3 separate regions of the Homo sapiens genome follow, and regions 1 and 2 are each linked to region 3. The links come from fine-mapping of genetic effects on gene expression. A gene starts in region 3. Each other region holds a variant in brackets. All regions are shown on one strand. Distances are between the middles of the regions. Region 1 has its middle 5.4 kb from the start of UQCRHL. Region 2 overlaps ZBTB17 (zinc finger and BTB domain containing 17). Region 3 holds the start of SPEN-AS1 (SPEN antisense RNA 1).

Region 1 (8,173 bases), 47 kb after region 3:
GCTACTGCACTCCAACCTGGGTGACAGAATGAGACCCCGCCTCAATAAATAAATAAATAAATAAAGACCATAAAGGAAAAAAATTGATACATTACCTCCATCAAAATAAATCAAAAGCCATCTTAAAACAGAATCTCAGGCTGGGCACGGTGGCTCATGCCTGTAATCTCAGCACTTTGGGAGTCCGAGGCGGGCAGATCACGAGGTCAGGAGATCGAGACCATCCTGGCTAACACGGTGAAACCCCGTCTCTACTAAAAATACAAAAAATTAGCCGGGTGTGGTGGTGGGTGCCTGTAGTCCCAGCTACTCGGGAGGTTGAGGCAAGAGAATGGCGTGAACGCAGGAGGCGGAGCTTGCAGTGAGCTGAGATTGTGCCACTGCACTCCAGCCTGGGCAACAGAGAGCAAAAAAAAAAAAAAAAGAAAAGAAAAAAGAGGCTCTCAACTCTGGCCGCAGGAGCATCACCTTAAGGGAGTTTTTTTTTGTTGTTGTTTTTGTTTTTTTTTTTGAGACGGAGTTTCGCTCTTGTTGCCCAGGCTGGAGTGTAATGGTGTGATCTTGGCTCACCAAAACCTCCGCCTCCCAGGTTCAAGTGATTCTCCTGCCTCAGCCTCCCAAGTAGCTGGGACTATAGGCATGCACCACCATGCCCGGCTGATTTTGTATTTTTTTTTTAGTAGAGACGGGGTTTCTCCAGGTAGGTCAGGCTGGTCTCGAACTCTTGACCTCAGGTGATCCGCCCACCTCAGCCTCCCAAAGTGCTGGGATTATAGGTGTGAGCTACCACGCCTGTACCCAACTAACTTCTTGTATTTTTTGTAAAGACAGGGTTTCACCATGTTGCCCACGCTGTTCTTAAACTCCTGATCTCAAGCAGTCCACTTATGTTGGCCTCCCAAAGTGCTGGGATTACAGGTGTGAGCCACCACACTGGCATTATGAGCCACCACACTGGCATTATTCTTTAAAAAATATATTATGACCAGGCACTGTGCATAACAAAACAAAGCAAATGCATGTACATACTAAAAAATGGTAGCTGCTGCCACCACACCTGGCCCTTTTTAATTAAGAAAAAAACTTGGCCAGGCGCGGTAGCTCACATCTGCAATTCCAGCACTTTGGGAGGCCGAGGTGAGCGGATCACAAGGTCAGGAGATCGAGACCATCCTGACCAACATGGTGAAACCCCGTCTCTACTAAAAATACAAAAAATTAGCTGGGCGTGGTGGTGTGTGCCTGTAGTCCCAGCTACTCGGGAGGCTGAGGCAGGAAAATCGCTTGAAACCACCGGAAGGCAGAGGTTGCAGTGAGCTGAGATCGCATCACTGCACTCCAGCCTGGGCAACAAGAATGAAACTCCGTCTCAAAAAAAAAAAAAAAGAAAAAACTTTTTCAGTCAGGACCTCACTATGTTCCCCAGGCTGCTGGTCTCGAACTCCTGGCCTCAAACAGTTCTCCCAAAGAACTAATGGTGTGAACCACCACACCTGGCCTCAAACTTTTAAAAAACACAAATGGGGCTGGGTGCGGTGACTCATGCCTGAAATCCCAGCAATTTGGGAGGCCAAGGTGGGCAGATCATTTGAGGTTGGGAGTTTGAGACCAGCCTGGCCAACATGGCAAAACTCCATCTCTACTAAAAATACAAAAATTAGCCAGGTGTGGTGGCACACGCCTGTAATCCTGGCTACTCTGGAGGCTGAGGCAGGAGAATCACTTGAACCTGGGAGGTAGAAGTTGCAGTGAGCCGAGATCACACCACTGCACTCCAGCCTGGGTGACAGAGCAAGACTTCTAAAAAAAAAAAAGCCTGCATACCATTCTGTCACTTGCTTTTTTACTTACTACCTCAAAATGTTGAGGTTCATTCATCCAACAAATATTTAGTTAGCCCTTAAATATGTGCTCAGCAGCTAGGGACCCAGCAGTGCCCTTGCCTTCAAAGGATTTTCATTGCAGTAGAGGGGACACACGATAGACAACAAGCAAGTAGTAATGAAAGACAAGAGGGAGATGACAGGTGACAGACAAGTTAATAGGGCCCAGGCTCAGTGGCTCACGCCTGTTATCCCAACACAATGGGAGGCCGAGGCGGGTGGGTCACCTGAGGTCAGGAGTTCAAGATCAGCCTGGCCAATACCCCATCTCTACTAAAAGTACAAAAATTAGCCAGGCGTAGTGGCGCTTGCCTGTGGTCCCAGCTACTCGGGAGGCTGAGGCAGGAGAATTGATTAGACCCAGGAGGCGGTGAGGTTGCAGTGAGCCGAGATCGAGCCACTGCACTCCAGCCTGGGTGACAGAGTGAGACTTCATCTCAAAAAAAAAAGGAAAAGTTAATAGGAAGGCAGCCTATATGGTCTGGTGTCGTCTTTTAGCAATTCCGTGAAGTACAATGGAGTTTCCAGGTTTTCTCTGTGACAAAGGGATGCTGCTTTGTCACTTTTTTTTCTTTCGAGGCAGGGTCTTACCCTGTAGCCCAGACTGGAGAGCAGTGATGCGATCACAGCTCACTGCAGCCTCGAACTCTTAGGCTCAGGGGATCCTCCCACCTACTGAGTAGCTGAGACCACAGGTACATGCCACTGTACCTGGCTAATTTTTGTTTTTTGTAGAGACAGAGTCTCACTGATGTTGCCTAGGCTGGTCTGGAACTCCTGGGCTCAAATAATCCTCCCGCCTTGGTCACCCAAAATGTTGGGATTACAGGCGTGAGCCACGGTGCCCAGCTGAGCCTTGATATTTAAATAGTGGTCTGGGGACCAGCAACACTGACATCTGCTGGGAGGTTGTTAGAATTGTAGAATTTCAGGTCCCACCTCAGACCTATTGATTATTTCCATATTAACAAGATTCACAGGTGATTTGTATGCACATTTCAGTTTGAGAAGGACTGGTTTAGAATGGAAGATAAAAAATGGCAGATAAGGCTGGGCACGGTGGCTCATGCCTGTAATCCTAGCACTTTGGGAGGCCAAGGCGGGAGGATCACAAGGTCAGGAGTTCAAGACCAGCCTGGCCAACATGGAGAAACCCCATCTCTACTAAAAAAAAAGAAAAAAAGAAAAAATTAGCCGGGCGCAGTGGTGGAAGCGTGTAATCCCAGCTACTTGGGAGGCTGAGGCAGGAAAATTGCTGGAACCCAGGAGGCAGAGGTTGCAGTGAGCCGAGATCGTGCCAATGCACTCCAACCTAGGCAACAAGAGCAAGACTCCGTCTCAAAAAAAAAAAAAGACAGATAAGGTGTTAAATACCTTCAGTTCAATTAGGGATTGATGAGAGATGGTGTGACCTAAAACATTGTTCTGGGTTGAATTTGGCCTTGTTGCCTGGACTGTCAATATTGTGGTGTTTATCCTCTTAGGGAAGAGAACTCCAAAGACCAGGTCATCTCCTTAATTTGCTTCTCTCACCAGGTGTGGGAATCCAGATTGCCCCAAAATCTTGAGCTGTTAAGGCTGGGAAGAGCCTGAGATGCCATCAGTTCAGCTCAATCCCTAGCTGCTGCCCTGCTCACTTCTGCCAACCCCCGTCTCACAGGCGAGGCTCTGGGAAGGGCAGTGGTTTGCTCAAACCACAAATCAGCCCAGGGCTGGCCACAGTCCTGGGTCCCAGCCAGTAGTTATCTTTTCTCTAAGTTTTGGTCCATTATTTTTCTATCTCATGGATTTATCCTAACTTTTTAGAAAAATGAATTTTAAAAACATATATGGGTTCATATTAGAAAAGTATCATTGTAGCAGGATGAGCCTCAGACAAGAACCCCTCAGAAACCGAGTTGTAGAAGGAAAGGGCTTTATTCAGCTGGGAGCATCGGTGGATTCACGTCTCCAAAAGCCGAGCTCCCCGAGTGAGCAATTCCTGTCCCTTTTAAGGGCTTACAACTCTAAGGCGGTCCGCGTGAGAGGGTCGTGATCGATTGAGTAAGCAGAGGGTACGTGACTGGGGGCTGCATGCACTGGTAATCAGAACGGAAAGGAAGAGGACAGGGATTTTCACGACGCTTTTCCATACAATGTCTGAAATCTATAGATAACAGAAGAGTTAGGTCGGGGTTGATTTTTAACTCCAGGCCCAGGGTGCAGTGCTGGGCTATCTGCCTGTGGATTCCATTTCTGCCTTTTAGTTTTTACTACTTCTTTCTTTGGATTCAGAAATTGGGCATAAGACAATATGAGGGGTGGTCTCCTCCCTTATCATGTGCTTACTGTAAAAAAATCAGAGTTGGGCACAGTGGCTCACACCTGTAATCCCAGCACTTTGGGAGGCTGAGGCGGGAGAATCACTTGAGCCCAGGAGTGCAAGACCAGCCTGAGCAACACAGTGAGTCCCTATCTCTACAGAAAAAAAAAGAAAAATCAAAAGTTATCCAGGCAAGATGGTGTGCGCCTATGGTCCAGCCTACTCAAGAGGCTGAGGCTGGAGGATGGCTTGAGCCCAGAAGGTCAAGGCTGCAGTGAGCCATGATCGCACCATTGCACTCCAGCCTGTGTGACAGAACGAGACCCTGTCTCAAAAAAAAGAAAGCTTTAAAAGGGTGAATTTTGTATGTGTGATTCATATCTCAGTAAAGCTGTTATTAAAAAAAATAAATAAATAAAAGCAGGCCGCCGGGCATAGTG[G/T]CTCACACCTGTAATCCCAGCACTTTGGGAGGCTGAGGTGGGCAGATTACCTGAGGTCAGGAGTTTGAGACCAACCTGGCCAACATGATGAAGCCCCGTATTTACTAAAAATACAAAAATTAGTGGGAATAGTGGTGGGTGCCTGTAATCACAGCTACTCAGGAGGCTGAGGCAGGAGAATCGCTTGAACCTGGGAGGCAGAAGTTGCAGTGGGCCAAGATTGCCCCACTGCACTCCAGCCTGGGCAATAGAGTGAGACTCCATCTCAGAAAAAAAAAAAAAAAAGCTAGAGAGAAGAAAGTAAAATATCCTTTGAGTCACCCAACCCCAGACTGCAAGTAGCCACTCATTCATTCCACAAATACTCTCTGAGGGCCTGTTCTATGCAGGCTATGTGCCAAGGGTTTACACCCTAGGAGCAGTGCCACCCCAGTATCTGTCCCCCGTGACCAGTGACTGCCCCTCCTCTATAATATCTATTGACTGACCTCTCTGACCTCACCTCATTTCTTTCCTCCAGTGCCCCGGCTCCAGCAGTCCATGGATCCTGCCCCCTTTGCATGTCCCTCAGCCTGCCTGCCCTCCGTGTCCTTCCTGCCCAGCCTACAATTCATGGTCAGGCCCCACCCCCACCCCCTCCTGCGGTCCTGACAAAACCCCAACACTGGTCAGTCCCACTGCTCCACCTCCACCGCATCTCACCTGCACTTGCGCAGCTCAATGTCACACCACCTTGCCAGCTGCTTCCCTTTCAACTCATGACACAAAACCCAAGAGGGCCCTTAGTGGATGTCAGGATCAGTCACTGTCCCCATGACCCTTGCACCCCTCTTTTCTCCTCTCTATAAAATAAGGGTGATAATATTTCTGTCTCCCGGGGCTGTTGGCAGCATCAGTAGTAGGTCCTTGCTCGGGGGCAGCTACTGGGGTTAGTTCCTCTGGTGCTCAGTCCAAGAGTTCCCTGGTGTCTTGGTGTCCGCGGAGTCCCACCCTGCGGTCATTTATTTTGTTCCGCTGGTTGGGCAGGCCTGGGCTCTCTGCCAGATCTGATCATCCTCCCAGAGACAGGAGGGAACGGAATGTGGCACCAGGCAGTAAGACGCATGGCTGAGCTCAGCAGGAGAGGGAAGCTTCCAACTTCCTGCAGCGAATGTCCTAGGTGATAGGTCAAGTCTGACCCCGCCAGTGAGGCCAACATGGAAACTTACTAGGGCCTCGAAAAGGTGTGTGTGGGAGTTCAGAGAGGAGTGGAGACAGCCGGCCTCCCAATCTGGACCCACAGGGCAGGGCAGGGAGAGGAGATGGCCCCGCCTCCAGGAATCCAGGCTGCACCTCCCTCCAGGGAACTCAGATCAAAGCCAGGAGGAAGGAGGAGTGTGAACTTTGCACCCAGTGACTCACTGCATCCCCCTAGGGCAAGTGCTCTCACCCGTGCAGAATCCTGCCCTCCTTGCCACTGACGGGACCATCCGCACTGGGTCAGCCTATGAGCAACACTGACCTGATTCACCTGCACGCCTTCATTCCCCCACCTTCATCCTCCTCCTCGCAGAGGTGATCAGATGTTTGCAGGTGCCTGCCTGTGTTTACAAGTAGGTCTTGGAAGATAAGAGAGGCGGTGGGAGGGGTGGGAAAGCCCTGTTCTGGCAGTCAGGACACCCAGGGCTTGGCCACTAACCAGCTGTGTGAGCTCGGCCGGTCTCACACCCTCTCTGGGCCCGGCCACCACCTCTGTGGTTATGGGCAGTTGGACTCTATGGCAAGTTCATCTGCCCTACCGGCTTGGGGTTCTACCGGCTTGGGGTTCTACTGGCTTGGGGTTCTTCCTTCTCACCGTTGCCCCCCTGGGAAAAAGCCCCAATCCTGGCACAGAGTCTAGGAAGCCTTGCTGCTTTGGTTCCTGCCTGAGTCTGGCCCTCATCCTGCACTTCCCACATGCTCAGCCACATTCAGCTGTGCCCAGCTCAGAGAGCAAGCGCCTGGATAGCTCTTGTTCCAGAGCCTCGCCTGGCTGACCCCTGCACACCCTTTAGGCCCAGCTCTGACATCACTTTCTCCATGGCCTGCCCTCCTGGACTCCTGGCTGTGCCTCCCCAGCACGGACTGTTCTCTTTTCTCCTTTTTCCATTAAACTGAGCTCTGTGCCAAGGGCAGTGACTGGCAGATGGGAGGGGTCAATGAGTATTTTATTAAAGAGTGAGTGAATGAATGAACAAATGAATGAATGAAGCGGGATCTCTAGGCACACTGGAGTGGAGCCACTGTTTGCTTTCTGCCCGTGGGACTTGATTTGAAGCCATCTCAGGGTGGGCCATTGGGAGTTCTACCTTGCCAAGGAGGGGTTGCTGGTCAGAGGGGTGCTGGAAGCGGGGGGGTTGCTGGGGGAAAGGGTGCAGATTTGCAAGGGAGGTTCTGGCTGAGCTCCCTGCATGCCACAGCCCGTCTGAGCAGTCTTGGGAAACCCCAAGCTGCCAGGCCCATGACTCACAGGCCCCAGAGAGCATTCTTAACCCTCCCTGACCCCCCATGTGCCTTCTGATTGGGCCCTCAGGGTGACCCCTCATGGGTTTCTCTCCTGCTTCAGCCAGCCCCTCCCTGTGGTCTGAAGTTTGGGATCCTGCTAACTGTAAAGGACCAGTTCAGGATTCCTGGGTCGTATTGTGTTTTTTGTTTGTTTGTTTGTTTTTGAGATGGAGTTTTGCTCTTGTTGCCCAGGCTGGAGTGCAGTGGCATGATCTCAGCTCACTGCAACCTCCACCTCCTGGTTTCAAGCGATTTTCCTGCCTCAGCCTCCCGAGTAGCTGGGATTACAGGCATGAGCCACCATGCCCGGCTAATTTTGTATTTTTAGTAGAGACGGGATTTCTCCATGTTGGTCAGGCTGGTCTCGAACTCCTGACCTCAGGTGATCTGCCCGCCTCGGCCTCCCAAAGTGCTGGGATTACAGGCATGAGCCACCACGGCAGGCCATAATTTTTTTTTTTTTTTTTTTTTTTGGAGACGGAGTTTCGCTTTTGTTGCACAGGCTGTAGTGCAATGGCGCAATCTCGGCTCACTGCAACCTCCGCCTCCTGGGTTCAAGCGATTCTCCTGCCTCAGCCTCCCGACTAGCTGGGATTACAGGCATGTGCCACCACCCCGGCTAATTTTGTATTTTTAGTAGAGATGGGGTTTCTCCACGTTGGTCAGGCTGGTCTTGAACTCCCAACCTCAGGTGATCCGCCTGCCTCGGCCTCCTAAAGTGCTGGGATTACAGGCATGAGCCACCGCTCCTGGCCTAATTTTTTGTATTTTTAGTAGAGATGGGGTTTTACCATGTTGGCCAGGCTGGTCTCAAACTCCAGACCTTAGGTGATCCACCTGCCTCGGCCTCCCAAGGTGCTGGGATTACAGGCGTGAGCCACCGTGCCCGGCCCGTATTGTGTTTTCCTGAGGAATCCTTGCGTGTTTATGGATTCCTCAGGAATCCATAACCCAGAGAGGGTGTGAGACCGGCCGAGCTCACACAGCTGGTTAGTGGCCAAGCCCTGGGTGTCCTGACTGCCAGA
Region 2 (8,173 bases), 97 kb before region 3:
GCCAAAGCCTGCGCGGGGATGTGTAGGGGGAGGGAACAGCTGTTTCTGGGCCTCTGGCAGCAGCAGCAACGCTGAACTTGTGGCTCGGAGGCTGGTGCGCTGTGGCTCATGCCTGTTGCCACTGCCATGCTCCCCGTTATTTGTTGCGTCACTTCCCCCCGCTCAGCAGATACCCCCACTTGTGAAAAGTTTCCAGACATCACGTGGTGGGAGGCCTTGGCGCCCTTCAAGGCCGACCTGTGCTGGTGTGAGGGGCGTGGCTTCCTCCGGACTCATCACAGCCCGACAGCCATGCATGGCCACAGCAGCTTCAGAGCTGCGGCAGTGATTCACCCCCCAAGATGCTGATGTCACAGGGGAGTGCCTGAGCCGGGGCAGAGCTGCCGAAACTGGGGGCGGAGAGCCCCAAAGTGTCCCTCTCACCTGCCCAGAAGCCGGGGAGCCAGCCCCGTGCAGACTCAGGCCTCAGAGAAGAGGAGGAGTAGGCAGAGAACTCACTACCCCTTAGCAGATCCTGGGCCAGGGCGTGACAGCCGTGCCCAGTTGAATCTGTCTAATGTGGCCCCAGACAGTGGGTGTTGATTTTTCTCTTCAAACATTCTGAAATGGGTTCTTTCTAGAAAAGAGGGCCCGCTTATTTTCCCTAGACAATTGCTGATGTTGACGCCCACTCTGGGTGGTGTTGGGGCGGGAGGGAGAGCTGTTTTAGATAGTTACTTAGTCACGGCTTGTGCGGTTCAAGACTGCTCGGCACTGGGCCATGGAATTTTCCTGAGCATTTTCACTTGTGGGATTTCCAGGCATTAAGTGAGGCCCTTGACAGAGAAGTTGTGGCCAGGTCAGCAGCTCTTGGGGTCAGGATCAAAGTTGTTTCTCCTGGGATGGCCACCAGGACACAGGTTTCTGGAGTCAGAAGACTCCGCAACTCTAGGTAGTTCCCATGAATCAGAAAGAGAGGGAGAGCTAGGCTTTGTCGGGGGATGGGGTACGTGCAGAGCCTGAGAGGGGCCGAGTTCTGCAACACTGGCTGATGAAACACCGTCTTGTCTTCACCTGTCCATGAGAGAATGAGAAAATAGGAAAGTTTTCTTAAAGACCAACATGTCCAATTGAAACATCTGTCCTTTATTCTGAGATTGTCATGCATTCTTTTTGTAACAAATGTTAAAGTGACCATGTCGTTTCATTTTTGAAATGATGACACATTTCAGTGTTCTGTATTTGTTCCCTTTTTTGGCTTTTTCATGTTATTATCAGGCTGAATACGGAGGCGGCTGCCTCGTGTTGGTGCCCCAGTGCTTTTTGGTTTGGGCCACTTTTCCTGGACAGTAAACCCAGGAATACAGGAGCCACCAGTTGGTTGAGTTTGGCTTGCAGGGGGTATCTGGACTGAACTGCCCTTTTGTGGCAGAAATGCCCTCACTTGTTTTAATTCTGTCTTCTCCATGGTGCTCGCCTGGGACTTTAGGAGTGACTGTTGAGCGTGTCTGACGTCCTTTCTCCGTGCTAACCCCAACGCCCTTTGGCTTTCTTCAGCCATGGACTTTCCCCAGCACAGCCAGCATGTCTTGGAACAGCTGAACCAGCAGCGGCAGCTGGGGCTTCTCTGTGACTGCACCTTTGTGGTGGACGGTGTTCACTTTAAGGCTCATAAAGCAGTGCTGGCGGCCTGCAGCGAGTACTTCAAGATGCTCTTCGTGGACCAGAAGGACGTGGTGCACCTGGACATCAGTAACGCGGCAGGTACCCCGTCAGGGCTGGGGCTGAGCTTGCTGATAGCCAGAAGCTATGGCCGGCCCTGTGCCATGCTAGGCCCTCCAGGGGCAGCACCTGCAGGCTGTGGGATGCAACAGGCCTCCCGCACAGGCTTCAGGCCATGAGCAATTCAGTACTAAGTTCCTCCCACCTTTTGGGGGCCTGTTTTGATTGGTAGTGGAGTGGTAAGGGGAGAACGGGCAGGAAGGGCTCATGATGAGCTCTAGGCCGCAGTGAACACAGGAAAGGCCTCATTGGGAGGGGCAGAGAGTAGGCAGGCTCTATGCCCTCTGGCCCCTTTCCGTGGCAGAGTCAGTCCTGAAGCATCTACCCCAGTGCTAACTAGAAGCGTGGGGAGAGGTGATGGGGAAGGCCTAGGGGCTGGGAGCAGTGTCAGGAAGACCTTGGGGTTGTGGAAGGAACTGGTCCTGGATTCAGACTCCCAACCCAGACTGACGTGACATGCCATGAGAAGGTATTATTCTCCCATTTTATAGATGTGGAAACTGAGACCCAAAGAGGTCAGTGACTGGCCTGGAGGTCAGTCAGATAGAGAGTTGGTAGCAGAGCCCTGATGAAAGTCAGGTTGGAGTGTCCTCCACTGGTGAAGTGTAGCGGCCAAATAAGAGGGTGTGGAGGGCAGGTGTTCACAACATCCGTCCTCAATGCAGGGTGGGCATTCACACCTCTGTCCTCATCCAGGGCAGGCATTCACACTCTGTCCTCCCTGCAGGATGGGCATTTATACCCCCGTCCTCTGTGCAGGGTGCATATTCACACCTCCTTTTCTCCATGCATGGGCGGCATTCACAGCCCATCCTCCTCCATGCAGGGCGGACAGTTGCACCTTCTGTTCCCTGTGCAGTGTGGGCATTCACACCTCCTGTCCTCTGTGCAGGGTGGGCGTTCACACCTTTTGTTCTCTGTGCAGGGCAGGCATTCAGACCCTCAGCGAGCACTTCTTTTCAAGGGCTGTTGGTAGTGCTGAGATCCCCCAGGTTACCTGCCTCCTCTCCACAGAGGAGATGGGGCGATGCAGGCTTGCCACTCAGCTGTTCCTAAATCCCTGCGTCCTGCTGCTGAGTGGAGTGGTGGGGCAGGCTGCCGGTGCCGGATCTTGAGGTGGGTCTGTGACAGCTGTCCTGTCCTTGGTAGGCCTGGGGCAGGTGCTGGAGTTTATGTACACGGCCAAGCTGAGCCTGAGCCCTGAGAACGTGGATGATGTGCTGGCCGTGGCCACTTTCCTCCAAATGCAGGACATCATCACGGCCTGCCATGCCCTCAAGTCACTTGCTGAGCCGGCTACCAGCCCTGGGGGAAATGCGGAGGCCTTGGCCACAGAAGGTAGGTTATTGGCAGCTGCTCCCAAGCAGATGGCCAGAGACCTTGGCTTTTGATGTGGGCTCTGCCTCTGACTTTCTGGGTCTCAGTTTCCTCATCTGGCCCTGCCTCGGTTGTGGGTGCTGGCAAGGGTTAGCCTCAGGTCTGAGGGTGGCCTCTCTGCCTGCCTTTCCCCTACAGAGCACCCGGGAGCCGTGCCTGGTTCAGTGCCTTTGCACACGGGCAGGCTCCTAAACCCTCCTGCGGGTCTGTTCTCCTGAGCCCCTCCTTCCACTTCCCTTAGCTGCTAAGATAAAAGCCCTCAGATGCCCACTATGGGCCAGGTGCCTTGCTGTAGACTTCCAGAGGCTGCGTTCCTCCCTTTCCTAGTGCTGACCTCTGATCAGCTCCCTTAGTGCACACATGGGGTCTGCATGTCCCACACAAGCAGGAACCATCACTGTTGTATTCCCAGTGCCCAGCCATCAGCCTGGCATGGAGTGGGTGCCCTGTGAATAATTTGGTGAATGAACAAATCAGCAAACCACTACTTAGAGGTACCCTAGGGAGGACGAGGAAGACCTAGCAAGTTCTGGGCCACCTCACACCTCCAGATGGCGGGCACTTGATGGGAAACGGCAGGTCTGCCCTGTTCCATCTCCAGGAGGGGACAAGAGAGCCAAAGAGGAGAAGGTGGCCACCAGCACGCTGAGCAGGCTGGAGCAGGCAGGACGCAGCACACCCATAGGCCCCAGCAGGGACCTCAAGGAGGAGCGCGGCGGTCAGGCCCAGAGTGCGGCCAGCGGTGAGTCAGATGCCAAGGACCCAGCCGGCTGTCCTGTCACCTCCCAGCAGCCTGGGCACAGGGTAGTGAGGGCTGCCTTGGGGCAGGTAGCACGGGCACCTGCACCTCTTGAGCCTGTGTTACCCAGAATGACCTATTGTGTGTTCCAGGGGGTCTGTTTCAACCAGAGCAGACACAACAGCCTTGGCTAGGGGTGTGCTGGGGCCTCCCCTCCTGGGTCACACGCAGCCACCACCAGCGCGCTGGTCCAGGAGAGGTATCCGACCCCTGGGCAGAGGGTAGCAATCCAGCCTCCGGTGCTTCCCCCACCCAGGTGCAGAGCAGACAGAGAAAGCCGATGCGCCCCGGGAGCCGCCGCCTGTGGAGCTCAAGCCAGACCCCACGAGTGGCATGGCTGC[T/C]GCAGAAGCTGAGGCCGCTTTGTCCGAGAGCTCGGAGCAAGGTAGCCCCGCCCAGCCAGGACCAGGCCCTACCTGGTGCATCCTCCCAGGGCCCTGCCTCCACTGCGCACTGGGGCCTCCCTCTCCTCCTGCCTCCAGCTAGTCCCACCTGGAGTCACCATGCACTTCAGCTTTGGGACACCTTGGTCTTCGCATGTTCTTGAGTCTCGAGGTCGTTCCTTGGTTGACCATGCTAGCCGTGTGTCTGTGAGCACAGGCACGTCCTTCAAAGCCCTGGAGCTTCTGCTGCTTCCCGGCTTTCAGCACCGTGCAGGGGTGCCTTGCCACCCACGGCAACCCTCCAGTGCCTGCTGGCCGACAGCGCCCACCCCAGCTGGCTAAGCCCCCTACCTGCATCCCGCAAGCAGCAAATACCCAGTTCACAGGCCCCCCCGGGGGCTTTCCTTGGCCAGTGCTGGGGCCATTTACTGTCCCTTCCACATGTTGCCGGCGCCCCTCACGTGCGCTCAGGCAGAGAGGGCTGCCGCCTCCATGCTTGCCCTTTTCTCCGCAGAAATGGAGGTGGAGCCCGCCCGGAAAGGGGAAGAGGAGCAAAAGGAGCAAGAGGAGCAAGAGGAGGAGGGCGCAGGGCCAGCTGAGGTCAAGGAGGAGGGTTCCCAGCTGGAGAACGGAGAGGCCCCCGAGGAGAACGAGAATGAGGAGTCAGCGGGCACAGACTCGGGGCAGGAGCTCGGCTCCGAGGCCCGGGGCCTGCGCTCAGGCACCTACGGCGACCGCACGGAGTCCAAGGCCTACGGCTCCGTCATCCACAAGTGCGAGGTGAGGGAGACTATGGCCAGCCCTCCCAGCCAGCGTCCCTCCCCTCCGGCCTCCCACCGGCTGCTCCTCACACCCCGCTTCCCCGCTGCACCCACAGGACTGTGGGAAGGAGTTCACGCACACGGGGAACTTCAAGCGGCACATCCGCATCCACACGGGGGAGAAGCCCTTCTCGTGCCGGGAGTGCAGCAAGGCCTTTTCCGACCCGGCCGCGTGCAAGGCCCATGAGAAGACGCACAGGTACTGCCCCAAGCCGGCCTCCTACCCCGGCCCCTGCCAGGCCCGGCCTTTCACGCCCCAGCGAGCCCTGCCTCCTGTCGCCTTCTGGCCCTGCAGCCCTCTGAAGCCCTACGGCTGCGAGGAGTGCGGGAAGAGCTACCGCCTCATCAGCCTGCTGAACCTGCACAAGAAGCGGCACTCGGGCGAGGCGCGCTACCGCTGCGAGGACTGCGGCAAGCTCTTCACCACCTCGGGCAACCTCAAGCGCCACCAGCTGGTGCACAGCGGCGAGAAGCCCTACCAGTGCGACTACTGCGGCCGCTCCTTCTCCGACCCCACTTCCAAGATGCGCCACCTGGAGACCCACGACACGGACAAGGAGCACAAGTGCCCACACTGCGACAAGAAGTTCAACCAGGTGTGCGGACCCCTCCCGGAACCAGCGCCTGGCAGCCGCCGGTGGCCGCAGCCGCATGCATGCCACGTGGTGGGGCGGGCGGGGAGCACAGCCCCGGCCTCCAGGAGCTCATCAGCTTGTTCACCCAGGAAACAGGCGCAGCGAGAGCCACTTCCGCGGGGGAGCTCCCGGTTGCTCTGCGGAGGGCAGGCCGACTCAGGGCGGGGTTTGGTCCTGAAAAAATGGGGTGGGGCGGCTTACCTCTCACCGCTGGGACCTGGGACCTCTCCTGACCCAGGAGAGATAGAGCCCTTCACGGACCCTGGCAAGCCTGAGAGTCAATTGTTCCTTTGTGGGAGGGGCAGGTGAGGGGGCCCGGGGCCGAGCTCTGTGGGGTGGCCCCCCTGACCCCTCCCTGGGCACAGGTAGGGAACCTGAAGGCCCACCTGAAGATCCACATCGCTGACGGGCCCCTCAAGTGCCGAGAGTGTGGGAAGCAGTTCACCACCTCAGGTAGGGCCAGGGCTGCCCTGGCTGCCCTCACACCCCTGCTCCTCGGCCACCGGTGGTGCCCCACGCCAGGTTCGCCCTCGGTCTCGCCACAGGGAACCTGAAGCGGCACCTTCGGATCCACAGCGGGGAGAAGCCCTACGTGTGCATCCACTGCCAGCGACAGTTTGCAGACCCCGGCGCTCTGCAGCGGCACGTCCGCATTCACACAGGTGGGTGGTGAGCGGCCATGCCCAGGACTGGGAGGGCACGGAGAGGAGCAGGCACCAACACCTTCTGCCCGGTCCCCAGGTGAGAAGCCATGCCAGTGTGTGATGTGCGGTAAGGCCTTCACCCAGGCCAGCTCCCTCATCGCCCACGTGCGCCAGCACACCGGGGAGAAGCCCTACGTCTGCGAGCGCTGCGGCAAGAGGTCCTGCCCCCTCCCCCACACCCACTGGCCAGACACCCCACAGTGAGGGGGCTCAGAAGACAAACTGGGGGCTTGGCTGGGGACTGAGCTGACTGCTGCCCACGCCCCAGGCTCTGGTCCTAGGGGTCCTTTTCAGTCTAGAGGGTGAGGCAGGAGGCCCAGGTTGGGGCAGTTCCATGCGAGTCCCTTCCTGTGGCCCCACAGATTCGTCCAGTCCAGCCAGTTGGCCAATCATATTCGCCACCACGACAACATCCGCCCACACAAGTGCAGCGTGTGCAGCAAGGCCTTCGTGAACGTGGGGGACCTGTCCAAGCACATCATCATTCACACTGGTGAGCTGTGGCCCCTACCATGCCTGTTCCTTCCCAGGCCCTGCTGCCAGGTGGGGAGCAGGGGGAAGGAAGGGACCCCCCAGACCCCAGCCTCGGGTGCTAGCTCTTGCTGCAGGTGGCCTTGAAGGCAGTTCTGTTCAAATGAGGACCCCATTTTCCTAGAGCTTCCAGAGGTGCCAGTGTCACCAGAGGCACCCGTGCAGCCACCCCAGAGCACCTCCTGCTGTAAAAGACAGGGTTGCTGGGCAAACGAGTCATTGAGGGCCTCCCACCCCATCCCTGCGGCCCCTTCCCACAAAGGCAAGAGAGAACCTTGCTCCCCCAGGAGAGAAGCCTTACCTGTGTGATAAGTGTGGGCGTGGCTTCAACCGGGTAGACAACCTGCGCTCCCACGTGAAGACCGTGCACCAGGGCAAGGCAGGCATCAAGATCCTGGAGCCCGAGGAGGGCAGTGAGGTCAGCGTGGTCACTGTGGATGACATGGTCACGCTGGCTACCGAGGCACTGGCAGCGACAGCCGTCACTCAGCTCACAGGTGCGGGCTGTGGGCAGCAGAGGGAAGTCACAGGCAGCTTGCTGCCAGGGTGGCGATGATGGGGCAGTGCCCGTGCCTTCACCTTAGGCCCTGCGACTCTGCCCGCAGTGGTGCCGGTGGGAGCTGCAGTGACAGCCGATGAGACGGAAGTCCTGAAGGCCGAGATCAGCAAAGCTGTGAAGCAAGTGCAGGAAGAAGGTGAGGGGGGCCACCCGGGTGTGAATGTGGGCAGAGCCCGGGGTCCTTCCCACTCTGACTGCTGCCCCACCTCCACAGACCCCAACACTCACATCCTCTACGCCTGTGACTCCTGTGGGGACAAGTTTCTGGATGCCAACAGCCTGGCTCAGCATGTGCGAATCCACACAGCCCAGGCACTGGTCATGTTCCAGACAGACGCGGACTTCTATCAGCAGTATGGGCCAGGTGGCACGTGGCCTGCCGGGCAGGTGCTGCAGGCTGGGGAGCTGGTCTTCCGCCCTCGCGACGGGGCTGAGGGCCAGCCCGCACTGGCAGAGACCTCCCCTACAGCTCCTGAATGTCCCCCGCCTGCCGAGTGAGCTGGCGGCCCTTCTGACTGTTTATTTAAGGATGGATGGCACCCTGGAACCGGGAAGGGTGGCCTGTTCCCTAGAGAGAATAAATTGGATTATTTTCTAATGCTGCCT
Region 3 (8,173 bases):
TCACTTGAGCTTGGGAGGTCAAGGCTGCATTGAGCCGTGATCCATCTTGGGTGACTCTGTCTCAATCAATCAGTCAGTCGATTAATAAAAGCAAAGAAATATATAGTCTCCAATTGGATATGCTGGTTTTCATGGAATATTTTCAATTTTTTAAAAATTTCAGTAAAATTTCAAACTAGGGGGAAAGGGAAACTTGAAAGACTATTTGGAAAAACCTCCTACATAAATTTTCCCAAAGGATTAGTGTTTACAGGATTTAAAATGTCCCATAAATCAAGCCTGAAACCTCTTCATAAGTATACCACACAATACAATCCCAGCAATCACGAGTCTGCAACAAAGGTAGTTAGAAAAAGGTGCCCTCCACACAAGCGAAACACTATCATTCTTCCTGGCAGTGAGCCCTATATTTTCCTCCAATCTGCCAGGGGCGTTCCTTTTGGGAAATAAAACCCATTTTATTATTTTTTATTATTTTGTATAATTATTCTGTATAATTTTTCTGTATTATTCTGTATTGCTTTATAATTATTCTGTGTAATTTTTAATGTTTTAAGATAACTCTGAATTTTTTGTTTTATTTTTAAAATGTGCAAAAGCCTATCATGCAAATAGATATTGGAAATCAGAATATTCAAAACCAGAGGTGGTTTCATAGACGGGATGGGGGTGGTATGGGTGGTATGGCCATAGACAAGAAGTGGTTTCATAGAAACCTTCTGGTCTCAAATGAAGAAGCGACGTAACAATGATACAGGCTACAGTGAGTCAAATTTGTTTAAGTCTAAAAATATCCCTAGTAGTCAGGAAAAGGAAATTCAATATTTTATATTGTGTCCCAGAGGTAAAGATATCTGAATATACATAAAATGTAATAGCTATTCCATCTATTTAACTCAGGAAAACCACTGTGATCAAACATTTTAAATCAGCAAAAACAAATTACATTTTTAAATGGGTCTCATTCTTTTTTTTTCCCCAGACGGAGTCTTGCTCTGTCCCCCAGGCTAGAGTGCAGTGGCACGATCTCAGCTCACTGAAACCTCCGCCTCCCAGGTTCAAGCAATTCCCCTGCCTCAGCCTCCCAAGTAGCTGGATCTACAGATGCACACCACCACACCTGGCTAATTTTTTGTATTTTAGTAGAGACGGGGTTTTACCATGTTCACCAAGCTGGTCTTGAACTCTTGACTTCGTGACCCGCCCGCCTCGGCCTCCCAAAGTGCTGGGATTATAAGCGTGAGCCACCGCACCCAGCCTCTTTAACAATATTTTTACACGAGGGGCTACCTCAGTTTACCTCCGCATAATCTTTAACCTAGTCTCTAAAACTGGAGATGGATGGGAAGAACTAAATTCGCAACTTACTTAAAATCTGAAAAGATAAAGATGTTAAATATTTTAAGGGTTTTATTCATTTGCTCATTCTAATTCAAGGAGTCGCCTTTGCAGACACCTCTCTCCCTCTCATAACTAAAAGACAGGAACCAATTGTATAACTCCTCCCTTCCCCCTTCAACCCAGCTAACATACAAAGGAAAGGACTTTCTCTATTGTGTCCCTGTAATGAATCTTTGTTAACTAAAACCCGATTCAGAAATAGTTCTCATTTAATTTTTTTAAATCCGCAAACTGAAAACTGTAAAAATAACAACAGATTTATTATTATTGCAAGAAAAGAAAAGCCAATTTTTGTAAATGTTCTGATTATGTTTTAAGGATTTGGTCTTTCTTTGGCACTGGGGAGGAAAAAGCCAAATCGCCATCCACCCCTCAATCTACTGTCCATTTAAAAACAAACAAACAAACAAAACTAATCAGAATGTAAATTTAAAAATAAATATAAAAATTTTTAAAGAACTGACTGACCTCTTTTTTCTGTTAAAATGTCTCTAAGCTGTCCCCAAAGCTGTCTGGTTTAATCTTTTTGTAAAATGCAAACACTTACTACAAAAGCCTAATCACTGTTAAGAGAACATTCATCTTGAAAACGTTTTATATAATGTATTCCCAGTGTACACCTCTTAATCCTGTAAAACAGTTATTAATGTAATCAGCTAGGGAAAAGGATAAGAGTAGGCACTTAAAGTTCAGTTTTAATATAGGTATTGCATGGTTTTTCTCATTCTGATTTGTACAAGACACCAGAAGTGAATACCATTTCATTTTCTTGCAGAGCCATCGTTCTGGTACAACTACCTTTTTATTCCTTTCACTTAAATTATTCAGATTTCACTTTTACTCCTAGTAGCAATCACACATTTTACAAAATATATCCCACAATAGGGATAAAAGGCCTTGAGTTCCTCCAAACAAGGTCCACTTAGCTCCACAGCTGGATCAGCAGGAACATTTCTTGTACATGCAGAAAGATAAACAAGAAACCAGAAATAGACATTACCTGGATTTTGGGGGGTGAGGGGAGGAAGTGTGGCAACTGGGAATTCCAGGGTCAGGGGTGGAGATTTTTCTCTGTATACCTTTCACATGCTTTGAACCCATAAAAATGTACTGTCTATTTAAACAACTAAATAGATTTGTTTAAAAATGAAAAAAAAAAACCTTTAAAATAAAAGAATTTCAGGGACACATGATCTGCTTAGTTTTAAAATAACCTGCTTTTATCAGTAGCATCTGCTTTTACTCTGCAATAGGTAAGATACTCCTTTGAATGCAGTCGTGAGCAAACTGCCAGCTAAGCCGTTTTTAATACAGTAATGTTCCTCCAGACTGCCGCTTTCCAAGGCAGCTCGAATCCTCCGCCCCCTCCTCCCTCTGTGCATTCTGAGATCGGCTCTGCTGATTCCCACATAAAGTGGGTCCTGGCCGCCATTTTAGAAAGTCATTCACACAAGCCAGACCGCAGCACCGTCCACTAAGAACCCTTCCAAAGCTGCCTGGGACGATTTCCTCTTTCTTCTCTCTGCCCCCTCATCTTGCAGAGGGGCCAAACTCCCAGCCATAAGCATGCAATGTCTCTGGAATCTGCATAATGAGAAATGACACGTCTAGGCACATAACACTGAGGAGCGAGCGAATGCTGCAATGCACGTGCTTGTACATCGGTGCATACGAATTTCCCAGGCAGAGACCTACAGAGAAAGTCCACAGGGGATTAAAGTGAGCACATCTAAGTGGTTTTTCCACTCCAATAATGTACACCTAAATGATTTTTCCATCAAAACACTGACGATACTCGAGGAGAAGCCAGGAGGTGGGGGGCGGGTAAGGGGTGGAGCAGCGCCAGGAAGAGAAAGTTCCCATCTGCTTCCCAATCCAGCCCGTGGTCTCCCCTTCATCCTAGGGCACAGAGGTGAATTTTTGCTCCCTGCCTCCCCCCGCCCCCGCCTGGTTTCTCAGGCACGACGTAGTAAACACCGGGAGAGTCCCTGGAAGCGCGCACCTCCCCCCGGCCTGCCGAGGACAGCTCAAGCAGGTTATGAATGGCCCCACGATTCCCGGCTCCTTTTCACACGCGGACACGCGCAGACGCGCGCTCCAGCGGCGAGGGTTTAATGCCCCAGTAACAGCAACCACCAACACAATCAATGATCCTCCATTTAAAAGACAGGAGCTCCGCCGCCGCTGCTTCCATTTCCTTATCCAAGCGGCTCAAAGCGAGCGACGCAATCTATTTTTCCCATGGTGACTCATTAATGAGGACGCTCCATAATTTCCTTCACTCACTACATAGTAAGGGAAATTAAAAGCCAAACTTAAAACCTTCCAGGGTCTTAAATATCGGAATAAACTGTCATTTTCGAGGACAACCACAGATTTGCTATGGTCCCTCTGAATCTGCACCAAGTCCAAGCCAATCGTCATTTTAATAAGTGTTTTATGCGGAGGCCTATCTGTTACGGTACACAGGCATTTCACAAAGAAAACGCACTACACGCTACTCAATAAGATGTATCAACGACAACATTTATTCTTATAATTCACAAAAATATTCAGGGGAGGTTTTTTTTTTAAGCTACATCTTCTCATCGTAAAAGGTTTGGAATGTTTTACCGTTTGATTCGGGAATTCAGGGGTGGGGGGCACCAGGGTCTTAGGGCGGCCTGGGAGTGCGACCCGAGGCTACGGGCGCCGGGGCTAGCAACCTCCTGTCAGACGCGGTCTCCTCCGCCGGGGACGAGGAAGCCCAAACGGGCGCACCAACTTATTTCACACCACTCTCCACCCAGCCCCGCAAAAACGAGAAACGTTTGCCATTCCCAGTGAGTTTCAAGGCTGCAAATCCTCCGGAGAGGTCCTAGATGGTCTCTCCGGGTCCGCGACGCGACCACAGTACCTACTGCGACTTCTGTTTTCGCACCGCCTTTCCCTTCGCACGGAACCCTCCCGAAGTCAGACATTGCCGAGCGCCCGCAGAGCAGCTTGGAGTGGCGGCGCCGGACCCGGCTGTCGGGCGGGCTCGGGTCCCGGCTGCTCCGGGCCGGGCACTGCGCGCAAGGACGCGACCCCGCCGCCCAGCGCATCTCCCACCGACTCCCGGGCTGACGCGAGGGCAGCCCCGGGGCGCCGGCTGCGTGGAGGCCGAGCCTCGGTCACCTCCCTCGTCACGGACGCGGCCGCCGGGGCCCCGCGGGCTCTTCGAAGGCGGCGCGGCTTGGCCGCCCGCACCGCCGACACCCGAGGCCCAACGCCGCGACGCGGGCCGAGCGGCTGACGAGGTCCCACAGCGCCCGTGGGTCCGGGCCGGAGTCCTCCTCACCAGCTCCGCGCTCCGGGAGGGGCCGGCAACGGGCCGGGGCGGGAAGCGGCGCCCGAGGAGCGAGCGCGGCCGCGGGCCTCGTGTCACTCACCGTTTGAAATGCTCGATGATCTTCTCTTCCCGCACGTTCTCGGGTAAGTTGCCCACCCAGAGATGCCTGGTTTCCCGGACCATGCTGGGCGGCGTGCCGGCGACCGCCGCTGCTGGCTCCCCCTCGCCGGCTTCGTACGAGACCGTCAGCGCCGGGAGGCGGGTGCCGGGGCGGCGGCGGCGGCGGCTGCGGCGGTGGCGTCGGCAGCGGCGGCGGCTCCTCCGGCTCCCCCCCGTGCAGAGACCATCCCTCTCCCCCAGGTTCTGACTCTCGGGCCTCGCAGCTCAGCTCTGCCGCCACCACACACCCGAAGCCGACCCTCGCGCTCCGGCAGCGCATGCGCCCGGGCAGGGGCGGGCGGGGGAGCGGGAGGAGGGGCGAGCGGGACACGGGCGGCAGCGACTACGACGGAGCTGGCGCTGTGGCAGCCGGACGCTTCCCACTGGCGCGCGCGGCCCGACTCCCGCCGCCGCACTGCCTCCCCCTCGCCGCGGGCGCGCGCGCGTCCTCCCGCCTGCCAAGGCGGAGAAGCTGAGTTCCTCCCAGCCGGCGCGCAGGCGCGCGGACCGGGCGACGAAGTGAGGGACTACAGGCGGGGAAGGAACGCTCGCGCGCTCGGCCCCGGTGCGCAGGCGCGCAGCTGCTAGTGGAGTCCCGCTGCTTGGCGGGCTCTCGGTCGGGTTCCCGCGCCGGGCAAGGGGCGGCTGAGGAAGCAGGAGCGGTCTTTAGCCCCTCCAGCGGCAACCCCAGGCCCCGGCCTGGTGGAAGATATGAAGAGAAATGCAATTGGTTTCCACAGGGCTACGGGTCAAAGCGGCTGCCAAGGCCTGTCCCCTAGAAGTCAGGACCCCTTCGTCCTCCGCTCACCTGGCGGCCAGCTCCTGGCGTTTCCGGACACTTAGATTCCTGCCTGCTTGGGAAAGCGATCAGAAAAAGGTTGCCCTTCTCACCGCTCTGCTGAACAGCGACGGCTTCAGAAACGCATCCCATCCAAGAGTCACTGGCTTGTAACATGAAGCAACTTTTTTTTTTTTAATACGGGGTCTCGCTCTGTTGCCCAGGCTGCTGGAGTGCAGTGGCACGGTCTCGGCTCACTGCAATCTCCGCCTCCCAGACTCAAGCGATTCTCCTGCCTCAGCCTCCCAAGTAGCTGGGATTACAAGCACCCGCAACCACACCTGGCTAATTTTTGTATTTTTATTAGAGACAGGGTTTCACCATGTAGGCCAGGCTGGTCTTGAACTCCTGACCTCAGGTGATCCGCCCGCCTCGGCCTCCTAAAGTACTGGGAGTACAGGCGGGAGTCACTGCACCTGGCCTAAGCAACTTTTTTATATAGAATCTTGCGAAACCGTTTGCAAGATACCCTTGCTGATCGCTGTGGTATAGAAGGAATAAAACGGAAATGAGACAGGAATCCAATATTGTTCCCCTCAGACCATAATTTAATATTTAAACAGAGAAAGGAATTAGACCTCTGGCCTTTCCAGGCCTAAGAGCTTTTGAAACCTACAGTTGAACTTTCTTTTTTTTTTTTTTTCCTTTGAGACGGAGTTTTGCTTTTGTTGCCCAGGCTGGAGTGCAATGGTGTGTTCTCGGCTTACTGCAACCTCTGTCTCCTGGGTTCAAGCGATTCTCCTGCTTCAGCCTCCTGAGTAGCTGGGATTACAGGCATGCGCCACCATGCCCGGCTAATTTTTGTATTTTTAGTAGAGACAGTTTCTCTGTGTTGGTCAAGCTGGCCTCGAACTCACAACCTCAGGTAATCCACCCGCCTCAAGCCTCCCAAAGTGCTGGGATTACAGGCTTGAGCCACCACGCCCAGCCTCTTTTTTTTTTTTTTTCCTGAGACCAAGTTTCACTCTTGTTAGCCAAGCTGGGGCACAATGGCGCTGTCTCAGCTCACTGCAACCTCCGCCTCCCAGGTTCAAGCGATTCTCCTGCGTCAGCCTTCCGAGTAGCTGGAATTACAGGCGCGCACCACCACACCAGGCTAGTTTTTTGTATTCTTAGTAAAGACGGGGTTTCACCATGTTGGCCAGGCTGGTCTTGAACTCCTGACCTCAGGTGATCTGCCCACCTTGGCCTCCCAAAGTGCTGGGATTACAGGCGTGAGCCACCATGCCCGGCCAGTTGAACTTTTATATAAAGGCCAATTTACAGAAATTCAAGGAAAACCCATAAAATTAAGGTAACTATATCGAGAGAAAAATAAAATTATTTATAATAAAAATACACAGAAATACCAGAGGTGTGCTGCTTCAGGTGCAAGCCAGATTTTTTTTTTTTTTTTTTTTTTTTTTTTGGAGACGCAGTCTCACTCTGTCACCAGGCTGGAGTGAAGTGGTACCATCTCTGCTTACTGCATCCTCCGTCTCCCGGGTTCAAGCAATTCTCCTGCCTCAGCCTCCCAAGTAGCTGGGACTACAGGCGCAAACCACCACGCCCAGGTAATTTTTTTACGTTTAGTAGAGGCGGGGTTTCACCATGCTATCCAGGATGGTTTCGATCTCTTGACCTGGTGATCTGCCCACCTCAGCCTTCCAAAGTGCTGGTATTACAGGCATGAACCACCAGCCCAGCCAATTTTAAATACTTGGCCTCATCGATTATCTCCTTAAATACAAACTAACTTACAAACGACACTATTTGAATTCGAAAATATTGTCACCAAAACCAATGGCACTAATATCTCAGGTCACCTATGCATAACTAAATTGTTTCTTTGTAGTCTCAGCTACTGGAGAGGCTAAGGCAGAAGCATCATCTGAGTCCAGGAGTTCCAAGCTGTAGTGCACTATGATTGTGCCTTGAAAAGCCCCAGCACTCCAGCCTCAGCAACATAGGAGAAACCCCTCTCTTAAAAAAAGAAAAAAAAAAGTAAAATTGGCTATTTACATCTGGCCATTTCTCTGTCACAATTATCACATAAGGAAAGTCAAGCTAACACCCTACTAACGAAACTCATGAACTATTCAGTACTGTGAACGTGGCTGCAGTTAGTCAACTGTTGAACTGATATGCATTTTTCTATGAAGCATGAATTTGAATACAAGCACCCAAGTTTGAAGCAAATTTTAAAATCTGATGTAAAATCTGATAGACTGAATTAGCTGAAACCTCTTGGGAAAGACCAGTGTCACCATGAAGAACAGTGTCACCTCAATTGTATTAAAAGGTGCAACTGACAAGAGGATTCAGAAAAGTGTCTCGCAATTAGAGAAATAAAAGGCATGTCTCGCCTTGAATGGAGGCTTCTGTTAAAATCATGATTTTAAAAAAAAAAAAAAAAGAGCCGGGTGCGGTGGCTCACGCCTATAATCCCAGCACTTTGGGAGGCTGAGATGGACGGATCACCTAAG

Evidence for each region.
Region 1: its variant is fine-mapped to the expression of SPEN-AS1 in whole blood (TOPMed, PIP above 0.99).
Region 2: its variant is fine-mapped to the expression of SPEN-AS1 in blood mononuclear cells (TOPMed, PIP above 0.99). The same link has a PIP of 0.9 or more in lung and whole blood.

The regions. Positions count from the first base shown.
Region 1 is chr1:15,798,149-15,806,321 of GRCh38, reverse strand. No RefSeq gene overlaps it. Among named protein-coding and RNA genes, the nearest start is that of UQCRHL, 5.4 kb to the left of the region's middle. RefSeq lists enhancers at 2,127-2,628, 5,794-6,088. The variant G/T (reference allele first, on the strand shown) is at 4,626.
Region 2 is chr1:15,941,861-15,950,033 of GRCh38, reverse strand. It overlaps ZBTB17 (zinc finger and BTB domain containing 17), which reads left to right. Exons shown (of 16, transcript NM_003443.3): 3 at 1,537-1,743; 4 at 2,911-3,099; 5 at 3,740-3,880; 6 at 4,194-4,319; 7 at 4,832-5,097; 8 at 5,195-5,337; 9 at 5,434-5,734; 10 at 6,139-6,226; 11 at 6,319-6,435; 12 at 6,515-6,635; 13 at 6,840-6,970; 14 at 7,296-7,505; 15 at 7,614-7,703; 16 at 7,782-8,165. The coding sequence starts at 1,539. The coding sequence ends at 8,065. LOC124903855 (a long non-coding RNA gene) reads right to left here and starts at 103. Exons shown (of 3, transcript XR_007065486.1): 1 at 1-103. RefSeq lists enhancers at 1-138, 630-799, 1,400-1,509, 6,711-7,910. The variant T/C (reference allele first, on the strand shown) is at 4,279.
Region 3 is chr1:15,844,789-15,852,961 of GRCh38, reverse strand. It overlaps SPEN-AS1 (SPEN antisense RNA 1), which reads left to right and starts at 4,815. Exons shown (of 2, transcript NR_024279.1): 1 at 4,815-4,854. SPEN (spen family transcriptional repressor) reads right to left here and starts at 5,255. Exons shown (of 15, transcript NM_015001.3): 1 at 4,812-5,255. The coding sequence starts at 4,894. RefSeq lists enhancers at 634-703, 3,083-3,677, 5,101-5,612, 5,613-6,125, 8,005-8,104 and silencers at 4,349-4,768, 4,949-5,518.